Linked DNA regions of Homo sapiens: all the other regions are reported to be linked to region 2. Evidence: microRNA targets listed by miRTarBase, many of them from high-throughput screens and not tested one by one. Region 2 holds a microRNA gene; each other region holds the end of a gene's coding sequence.

What was found. The annotated mature microRNA hsa-miR-548y reads AAAAGUAAUCACUGUUUUUGCC and lies in region 2 at 2,028-2,049, opposite strand. An mRNA with a match to its seed (bases 2 to 7 or 8) in the 3' UTR can be bound and repressed. Matches are read on the target gene's strand: a 7mer-m8 pairs with bases 2 to 8, a 7mer-A1 pairs with bases 2 to 7 and ends in A, and an 8mer does both.
Region 1: miRTarBase lists SYNCRIP as a target of hsa-miR-548y. The part of its 3' UTR that is shown has no 7-base or 8-base seed match.
Region 3: miRTarBase lists MSANTD4 as a target of hsa-miR-548y. Seed matches in the 3' UTR shown: 8mer at 1,905-1,912.

Annotation. Positions count from the first base shown.
Region 1 is chr6:85,612,313-85,615,312 of GRCh38, forward strand. SYNCRIP (synaptotagmin binding cytoplasmic RNA interacting protein) reads right to left here. Exons shown (of 11, transcript NM_006372.5): 11 at 1,664-3,000. The coding sequence ends at 2,444. Among named protein-coding and RNA genes, the nearest start is that of SNX14, 20 kb to the left of the region's middle.
Region 2 is chr14:47,759,034-47,762,392 of GRCh38, forward strand. It overlaps MIR548Y (microRNA 548y), which reads right to left and starts at 2,071; the gene lies at 1,962-2,071.
Region 3 is chr11:106,006,630-106,009,988 of GRCh38, reverse strand. It overlaps MSANTD4 (Myb/SANT DNA binding domain containing 4 with coiled-coils), which reads left to right. Exons shown (of 3, transcript NM_032424.3): 3 at 1-2,090. The coding sequence ends at 454. Among named protein-coding and RNA genes, the nearest start is that of MSANTD4, 14 kb to the left of the region's middle.

The DNA of each region.
Region 1 (3,000 bases), not on the chromosome of region 2:
TCTGGAATGCCTGACTAACCAGCTCTGATGATTACACCTGAAACTGCATATCTGAACACAATTCAAAAGTGATCACTATAAAAAAGATATAGACAATCATGATTAACCTTGGTGAGCAGAAATAAAATTTAAGGATACCATCAGTGGCATTCATCTATACCACTGCAATAAAATTTAAATGCACAAATTCAAGAGAATATTTCAAAATACCACTGTTGGGATCCTTAATTTAAAAAAGGGGAAAAATCTACTTAGAGCAGATTTTTAAAAGAACTTTATTCTTTATTAAGATACCATGCTAGGAGTTATGAAGGATTTCTGTTGGAACACATTTTGAAAATAGAGTAGCTTTAGTTTAATAACTTGCACTGCAGAGAAAATTGTTAAAGAAATTCATATCAAAGTCCAAGTATTAGTTCAATGTCCCGTATTTGATTCCATGATCTTCATAGGAAGGTCTTCTGCAATAGAATATGCTCCTATACAGCCGACATATTTAAGGTTGCTTGATTTCCTTACCATTACTCCACTGCAAGCTTCTGGTGTAATCCCACATAGCAAGTCAGTCTTCATTGTAACAGGTCAGGACCGGCCTCGACCCCTTTTCCCTGCTAGCCAGGTAACAAAAGGAATCAGTTAGATAAATCATCTTAAATTAATAATGTGTACATACATAATGATAACATTAAAAAGACAAGCCTTAACATGGTAATTCTAAATATACTGTCTAGCCAAAAAAGTTGCCTTTAATAACTATGAACTTCTTTTTGCTTGTTTTTTACTTGCTTTGAGGTTTTTGGTTGCTTTTTTGCCCCTTTGAGTGAGGAGGCTGGACTGAGGTTTGAAAACCCCATTTTGTTCACAAACTGATTTTATTTAAAAAAAAAAAAAGACTAACAGGAAACCTAAATGAAGTCACACCTTAAAGTTACCCATTAACTTGCAAGTAATTCCCATTTTTGAGACATGAAGTAATCATAAAATATGCTGAAAGCAAACATCTCAGACTTGTTTGACCTTGAGATTTGAAATTTAGTGACATTTTTAAGAAAGTTTGTCTTTCAAGTCATGTATTTTTCACATGTAACTTTATTGTCAGGTATAATACCTTTAAATTCAAGGGTGATGGAGGTTCAGAAGTGGGGAGTGGCTGTTAAACCTTTTCACTGTTGACCTAGAGTCTGTCCCCCAAAACTCTAACATTTTCCCATCATTACTGTTAGAAGTATAGACCATATGGCCAAAACAAGACTAAAATGTGAAACAAAAATCCAAACTATTAGATCTTTAATACAAACCAGTCTGTGAGGTAAATTTTATCCTTCAGATATATATTTGCTTACCCAAAACTAACTGTAAAGCTGTTTTATTTTTAATTAGGTAAGTACAGTGATTATTTAGAGTGCAACTCACAAATTACCCAAACCTATTCCCATTGTTTTCACACTAGAGTTTCTTTGCTGCTTTCTAGTCCCATGGTGTGCAAAACAGTCAAGAGGGCAATATACTCAATCTGAGTTTTAGGTTAGTTAGGATAAACTTTAGGCAACTGAAAGTGGACTTGTCAGTGTGACCTGCAAACCCTTTGAGACTACCTGAATTTGTCCTTTTATACAGTTCATTCATCACAATTAAGAACTCTAAAATACTTACCAACTTAAACTTACTACATGTATTATCTTTTTATTTTTGATGGGAACATGAAGTCTGTTGTAAAATAGCACTTTAAACCAGAAGCAGAAAACTGCAATAAATCAGTGTTGTGTAATGTGCAGACATATTCCACACAAGAATTAACAAGGCACAAAACCCTTTAATTGGCCTTGACATGCTATACAATTTGAACCAAATTTGCAGGAAATTTTGTGAAAAACGAATTGTAAACACAATTTTAGTAAGTATACATTTAGGTGTGAATTTTTTATTGAAATAAACAACAGCATAAAGAATACAAGTAGCCAAAATGGTTTTGAAAACCCAAATTAGGTCAAAGTTCTAAATTAAAAATAGCAGTTGTGTATCAATTTACCTTATTCTAGCAATTTAAGTTGGTAACATACAAAGTTATTCTGATACAAGATATTAAAGACACACTTGGTTTTAATCAACTACCTTTGAAGACACCAAATCTAAACACTACTGGAAACATCGTTGACACTACAGCCAAATGGACTTGAGCCAAATTTTCTCAAGCACAAATGCAAACTCATTAACTATTTCTTTCAGTATCTAAGAATATCTTTATTGAAAAAAATTAAAAATAAAATCAGTTCGCCAGAAGCAGTTAGAAGTGTGGCTTTGTTCGTGTCCAAGCGGATTGTTAAAATATATACATAAAGGGAAATCTTGCCAGATGTCACAAATTATAGCGGCACCCGTTCAGATTTAGGGTGAGTTTCTGATCAACCTATCAGTCTCCAATTTTACAGAGGCCCTACTGTTTCTACTTCCACTGTTGCCCAAAAGTATCCTGATAAAACTCCTGGTTTTCAGATTTGTAACCATAGTTACCAGAATGATCACCACCTTGGAGCGGTTGCTGAGCAATGGGTTGGGAGCCCCAGTTCTGATTATTGGTCTGGCGCCGCTTGGAATCTGGCTGGTTGTACCCATCAGCTTTGCGCTTTCCTCCTACATTTCCACCGCGGCCACCCCTCGCACCACGTACCCCGCGGCCTCTTTGTTGTTGGGCACCTCCTCTCGCACCTCGAACGCCTCTTGCTGATCCAGGACCTCCTCTCTGTGAATAACCGGCTCTACCGCGGGGAGGAGCAGCCCCACGACCTCTGGATGGAGCAGCACCCCTTGCTCCTCTACCACCCCTTCCTCTAGCTCCAACTTGAAAATCTTCATAACCATAGTATGGATCTTCATATCCACCACGATAGTTATGGTAATCATAACCATAATAATCATAATAATCTTCATATCCATAATAATCTGGAGGATATCCATAACCACCTCTACCTCCACGCCCTCGACCTCTTGTTGGAGGGGGCA
Region 2 (3,359 bases):
CATATGATCTTCTCTACATGGCTACTTGAGTGTCCTCAGAACACGGTAGCTAACTCCTCCCAAAATGAGAAAAATGGAAGACCAGAGAGGAGGCTGTAAACTTTTTAATGACCTAATTCTTACATCACACACTTTCACTTCAACAATATTCTATCTGTCATATATGTAAGTCCTATTAATTGTGGGATGGAATTAGATAGGAGTGTGAATACCAGGAGCCAATGTTTACTAGGAAAATATTGAATGTTGGTTACTACAGAGACTATGGTGGATTTGTATCATGCCAAATGAACTAAACTGGAATTGCATTCCCCAGAATTCCCCTCCAAGCATAGTTCTTTGGTATTAGTCCATTTTCACACTGACGATAAAGACATACCTGAGACTAGGCAATTTACAAAAGAAAGAAGTTTAACATGGACCTACAGTTCCATGTGGCTGGGGAAGCCTCACAATCACGGCAGAAGGAGCAAGTCATGTCTTACATGGATGGCTGCAGGCAAAGAAAGAGAGCACTTGTGCAGGGAAACTCCCCCTTGTAATACCATCAGATCTCATGAGACCCACCCAACACCATGGGAAAGACCTGCCCCCGTGATCCAGTTACTTTCCACCAGGTCCCTCACGTAACACTCGGGAATTCAAGATAAGATTTGGGTGGGGACACAGCCAAACCATATCATCTTTGTTAGTGAGGGCCATGAGAGATATTTTGTATGAGAGTTGGAAGGATGAAATGAAACAGCATCTATATTCTTTTTATTTTCAGAAAGTCAGCACTGGGCACATGGCACTGTTGTAGCTCACACAGGTGTCATTTATCTGTGGGATCACATTGTTGGAGTAGGGCAGTAGCTGGGCCCTCAGAAATGCCACAGCTGCCAGACACCCACTTTCAATCACTCTGACTTTCAGTGAGGTATGGTTTAGCTCATAGCAGCTCCTCCTGCAGATTACCCCAACTTTAAAGTTGGACACATGGAAGCAGGGTTGCAACTCTGTCCTGATAGATTCGGGTTTATTCTTGCAGGTACCAGTTTGTCTCGCTTCCCTCATTTTACGTCCATTTTATCTTTCAGACTGTGTGCGCTGATGACTTTAGGCTCAGCACTAGACACAGAAACAATAGTTTCACAAAGACTTTTCAACAGTTTCCACAAATATATAAGGCAAATCCCTATTACAAATCCCTTATTATACACAAATCTGGTGGTACTGCTTCTCAGATCAGACTCTGACATAGAGACTATAAAATAAGTAGCTTTAAATTGAATGAAGCAGGAAAGAGGAAATCAATTACTATAAGAGATAAGGTGACATAAAAAGCAGATATATTTGAAAAGAGGCCAAATAGAAGTTATAAAATGAAAAATATATTAAATAAGAAAAACCTTCTAATATATAGATTTATATATATATAATATATATAAATCCTGAACAGGATATGGGTGGCTTTGACAAAATTCCACATAAACAGTAGTTCAGATAAGATAGATGTTTATTTCTCTTTCTTTTTTTTTTTTTTTTTTGAGACAGAGTCTCGCTCGTCGCCCAGGCTGGAGTGCAGTGATGCATCTTGGCTCACTGCAAGCTCCGCCTTCCGGGTTCACGCCATTCTCCTGCCTCAGCCTCCGGAGTAGCTGGGACTACAGGTGCCCGACACCACGCCCAGCTAATTTTTTGTACTTTTGTTAGAGACGGGGTTTCACCGTGTTAGCCAGGATGGTCTCGACCTCCTGACCTCATGATCCGCCTGCCTCTGCCTCCCAAAGTGCTGGGATTACAGGCGTGAGCCACCACGCCCGGCCTATTTCTCTTTCATAAATTGTAAGCATTTCAGGACTTCGATGATAGATAAGACATTTCCACATTGTCAACAAACCAGATCCTTTATTGTAACTTCCTCAATTAGCTTTTTAATCAGAGTCCAGCTTGGATGCTCCACATCTGCCATGTCTGCACCCCCACAGTGAAGGTGTTACTAGGTTGGTGCAAAAGTAATCACGGTTTTTGCCACTGAGAGTAATGGCAAAAACAGTGATTACTTTTGCACCAACCTAATAGTTTAGGCTGCTGTCACAAACTACTATAGGCTGGTGGCTTAAACAACAAACAGTTGTTTCTCATAGTGCTGGAGGCTAGGAAGTTCAAGATAAAGGTGCTGGCAGATTATGTGTCTGTTGAGGCTCACTTCTTGGTTTATAGACTACCAAGATCTTATTTTCATATGAAGGGAAGAGAGCTAGCTACTCTATGGCCTCTTCTCATAAGAGCACTAATCCCATCCATGAGAGCACTAACAGTATTACTTCATCGACTCTGAAAGGTACCACCTCCAAACACTATCACATTGAGATGAGGGATTACGGTTTCAACATATGAATTTAGGGGGCCACAAACATACATTCCATTGTAGTGGGAAAGAAGAATGGGAAGACCTACTCTTTTCCTTTTAAAACTGTGATCCAAATGTTGTACATCAATTTCACGTATATACCATTTAACTGACCCAAAGTAGCTGCAAAAAGTGCTGAAAAATGTTATATTTAGGTAAATGGACACATATTCAGCTAAAAATAGCATTACTACACGAAATATATGGATATTGAGAAAGCAAATAATAGACTCCGACACGATGATTAAAAAGCAGATAATTCTCAACAGGCAATTAACAGAGAGAAAGAGCTGAGGATTTTACAGTTACTAAAAGCAAGTTTAAGAGATAAATAAGATAATAGATTAAAATGGGATAGATTCAATGAAAGAATAAGAGGGAATGAGATGGTAATGATGATTTTTTCAAAATCAATAGCATGAACCTAATATTTGAGAAGCACACTGGATCTGCTGCAAAATAAGATGAAATTACACACACACGCACAGACACACACACACACATACACACACACACACACACACACACACACACAGTGCTAAAACCAAAACCAAACACCCAAGACATAAAGATCTTCAGAATCAACATAAATAACTTATGAGGAAAACTACTAGCTTCTTTATAAAATCTACATTTCAATGCACTGCTGTGGTTGCAGGGAAATAAGTAAATCTCCAAGCACCCCTTAAATAAACAACCTAATAAACATGCAAAAAATGACCTGAATCCTGAGATAGAATCAAAGAACAGTGCGCTACCTGCAAGACACAAATGGGAAAGTTGGAGCTAGCCTGAGACAAGTGTTGAAATTAGCATTGTGTTCCAGAGACTAAGCTTGAGGGAGCTGATCCTGGAAACCTGGCATTATGTCAGCAAGCCTGGTCCCAGGTCTTACTACATCAAACTCCTAGCAGAGATAATTTCAAATTCTACCCTGGAGAAAAAGTTGACCCTAGGATACCTA
Region 3 (3,359 bases), not on the chromosome of region 2:
ATCTGCATATGATGAGCCTCATTTGCTCGTAAATATTGAGAAACAGAAACTAGAGTTGGAAAAACGACGACTGGATATCGAGGCCGAAAGGCTGCAGGTAGAAAAGGAACGCCTACAAATCGAGAAAGAGAGGCTGCGGCATTTAGACATGGAACATGAGCGGCTTCAGCTAGAGAAGGAGCGGCTGCAGATTGAAAGAGAAAAGTTGAGGTTACAGATAGTCAATTCAGAGAAACCGTCCTTGGAAAATGAACTTGGTCAAGGAGAAAAATCCATGCTTCAACCACAGGACATAGAAACAGAGAAGTTAAAACTTGAGCGAGAACGCTTGCAACTGGAAAAGGATAGGCTGCAGTTTTTGAAGTTTGAATCTGAGAAGCTGCAGATTGAAAAGGAACGCTTACAGGTAGAGAAAGACAGACTTCGAATTCAGAAAGAAGGACACTTGCAGTGATTTTTCCAGGCTTCCATTTAGCAAATGTTTGAAAACTCTAGATTTTTCTCATATCAGGTGATATAATGATGGTTGCTGGATTAGCTGTGGTTTCTTGTCTAATGTCAGTGTTCAGTAGGAAAAAGTTATATGTGGATAACTGTATGCCTAAGTAGTATATAAAAGCTGTGCCCTAGCGTAAACAGTATAGCAGAAACTTACTGTGCTGGACTCTTTACCTTATAATATTACATAGAGTCTTGTATTGTCTGTGTACCCAGAGTTTACAATTATGTCCATATAAAATTCTAGCCCAGAAGTTCTCATCTGGGGTAGATTTTGGCCTTCAGAAGACCAATTTGGTGATGTCTGGAGACATGTTGGGTTGTCAAAACTGGGGTGGGGAAAAGGTTGCTACTGTGCAATGCATACCTCCTCAACACCCCCCCACACTCAGTAAAGAATTTTCCAACCCAAAATATCATTAGTCCTGAGGTTGAGAAACCCTGTCCTAGCCTAACTGTGTACCTCTATAGCTATGTTTTATAGTTTTAGAATATTAAAACCTCAGATATTTATGTGGGTAGGTACTTAAATGGCCAAAAACTTTAACTATGAAATGTTACTGTGTAGTATATTGAATATAGGAAGTGATGAAGATTATAGGTATTTTATTCCCATGTTTCCATCTATAAATAGCCTTCTCAGATTCAGAAAACAATACAGAGAACATCAGAAATTTTCTAAAATGGGTCACTTTGAAAAGAATTCTTTTTCTCACTATTAATGCTTTAGAAGCAAGACGCAATTTTAAAGCTTTAGTTCCTTTTCTTTCAGTCATTGTCTTAGTTTGGGTACAAAAATGTCATTTCAGTAATGTACTGAAATCTTATAAGTGAATAGTTGAAGCTAGTAAAAATGATACCAGTATAAAAATGGTACTTGTAGTCCATGAGCTTGAACCCAATGACTGATTGTTTGACTTTTAAAATAAGTAATAGCAGCCATTTGGGAGTAGGGGGTAGGTGGGGAAGATGTACTCCGTATCAAATAATAATGATGTTGAAATAATGATAGTAGGTATGTATTATGGATTGGAGAAGCACTTATTACACTATCTAACCTAATATGTAGAACAATTCTTGAGAGTTGTATCTGTCGTTATTTCTGAATGTGAAGCTCAGAGAAGTGACACAGAGTAAATGGCTGATCTTCTATATTGTAGTATATTTTGTCCTTCCCTCTTCCCTGAGGAACAAAGCACGTATCTTTAGTCTCTTTGATATTTATTCTGAGACCAAGGGCTTGCTTGACCTGATGATTTTCCTTCAGCTCTCTGAAGGTGCTTTTTCCACAATCCAAGTGATTCTGATACACACTAAAGTTGAGAATCACTGCACTAGATCACTTTGTGTTTTCTGATTTTCAAGGTTGATACGTAGCTTTAATACAGCTCTTCTGTTGACAGTTATTACTTTAATTTTGCATTTGTTCCTTGTAAGAATGGCTGGAAACTGTGTGTTGACATTTGAGGATGGGTATGCAAGGAAAAAATATACTTCTGTTTACTTACTCTGACTTTGAAATAGTGTTATTTTTCTATATCTGAAATAAATGCTTCTACCATAGAAATAAATTTGCCTATACTATCTGAGAATTTGTAATTTCAGATGATACTCAGTGCTCTAAGGGTAGAGGTTATCAAGCTTAGAAGAGAGCCCTGTCACAGTCAGTGAGGACAGAGGCCTAAATAACATTTGGACTGGACATTGAGCTATGTATGCTGCATATGTTATTTGCTCCTCAAAAGAACCCTTGAGATCTAACTCAGGTGATACGGTTTAGCTCTTTCCTCACCCAAATCTCATCTTGAATTGTAGCTCCCATAATTCCCATGTGTTGTGGGAGGGACCCAGTGGAAAATAATTGAATCATGGGAGCAGTTTCCCCCACTGTTCTCATGGTAGTGAATAAGTAAGTCTCACAAGATCTGATGGTTTTATAAGAGGAAACCCCTTTCTCTTGGTTCTCATTTTCTCTCTTGCCTGTGTCCATGTAAGACATGCCTTTCACCTTTTGCCATGGTTATGAGGCCTCCCCAGCCACGTGGAACTGTGAGTCCATTAAACCTTTTTCTTTATAAATTACCCAGTCTTGGGTATGTCTTTGTCAGCAGCATGAAAGCGGACTAATACATCATGTTATCTCCACTTTTATGACAGCAACAACAAAAAAAAGCCTCATCGATTTAATTAACCATCTTTCTTAAAAATTACATACTAATATTGACCCAAGTTTTTAGCATAAGAGCTCTAAGGAAAAGGAATGGTGAAAGTTTGTAGGTATAGTTATAAGTATTGTAGCTTTGCCATTTGCTATTTGCGAAAGGCATTTAACTTGCTCTTCAATTTGGTTTCATCTGTAACTGGGGCATGATACCTACTCTGCCTGTGCTACATAGTTTTTTTTGTTTTGTTTTGTTTTTTTAAAGAAAATGGTAGAAGTATATAAACTATAAAATGCTACTTAAATGAAAGATGGTATTAATGTTGGATTTGAGATCCAGGGTTTTTTGAGATGGAATTTCACTTTGTCACCAAGGCTACAGTGCAGTGGCGCAGTCTTGGCTCACTGCACCTCCACCTCCCAAGTTCAAGCGATTATCCTGCCTCAGCCTCCTGAGTAGCTGGGACTACAGGCAAGCACCACCACCACCACCGCACCAGGTGAATTTTTTTGTTTGTTTGTTTGTTTTGAGACAGAGTCTTACTCTGTCACCCAGGCTGGAGTGCAGTGGCGCGATCTCAGCTCACTGCAAGCTCCACCTCCCGGGTTCACGCTATTCTCCTGCCTCAGCCTCCTGAGTTGCTGAGACTACAGGCACCCACTACCACACCCCACTAATTTTTTGTATTTTTAGTGTAGA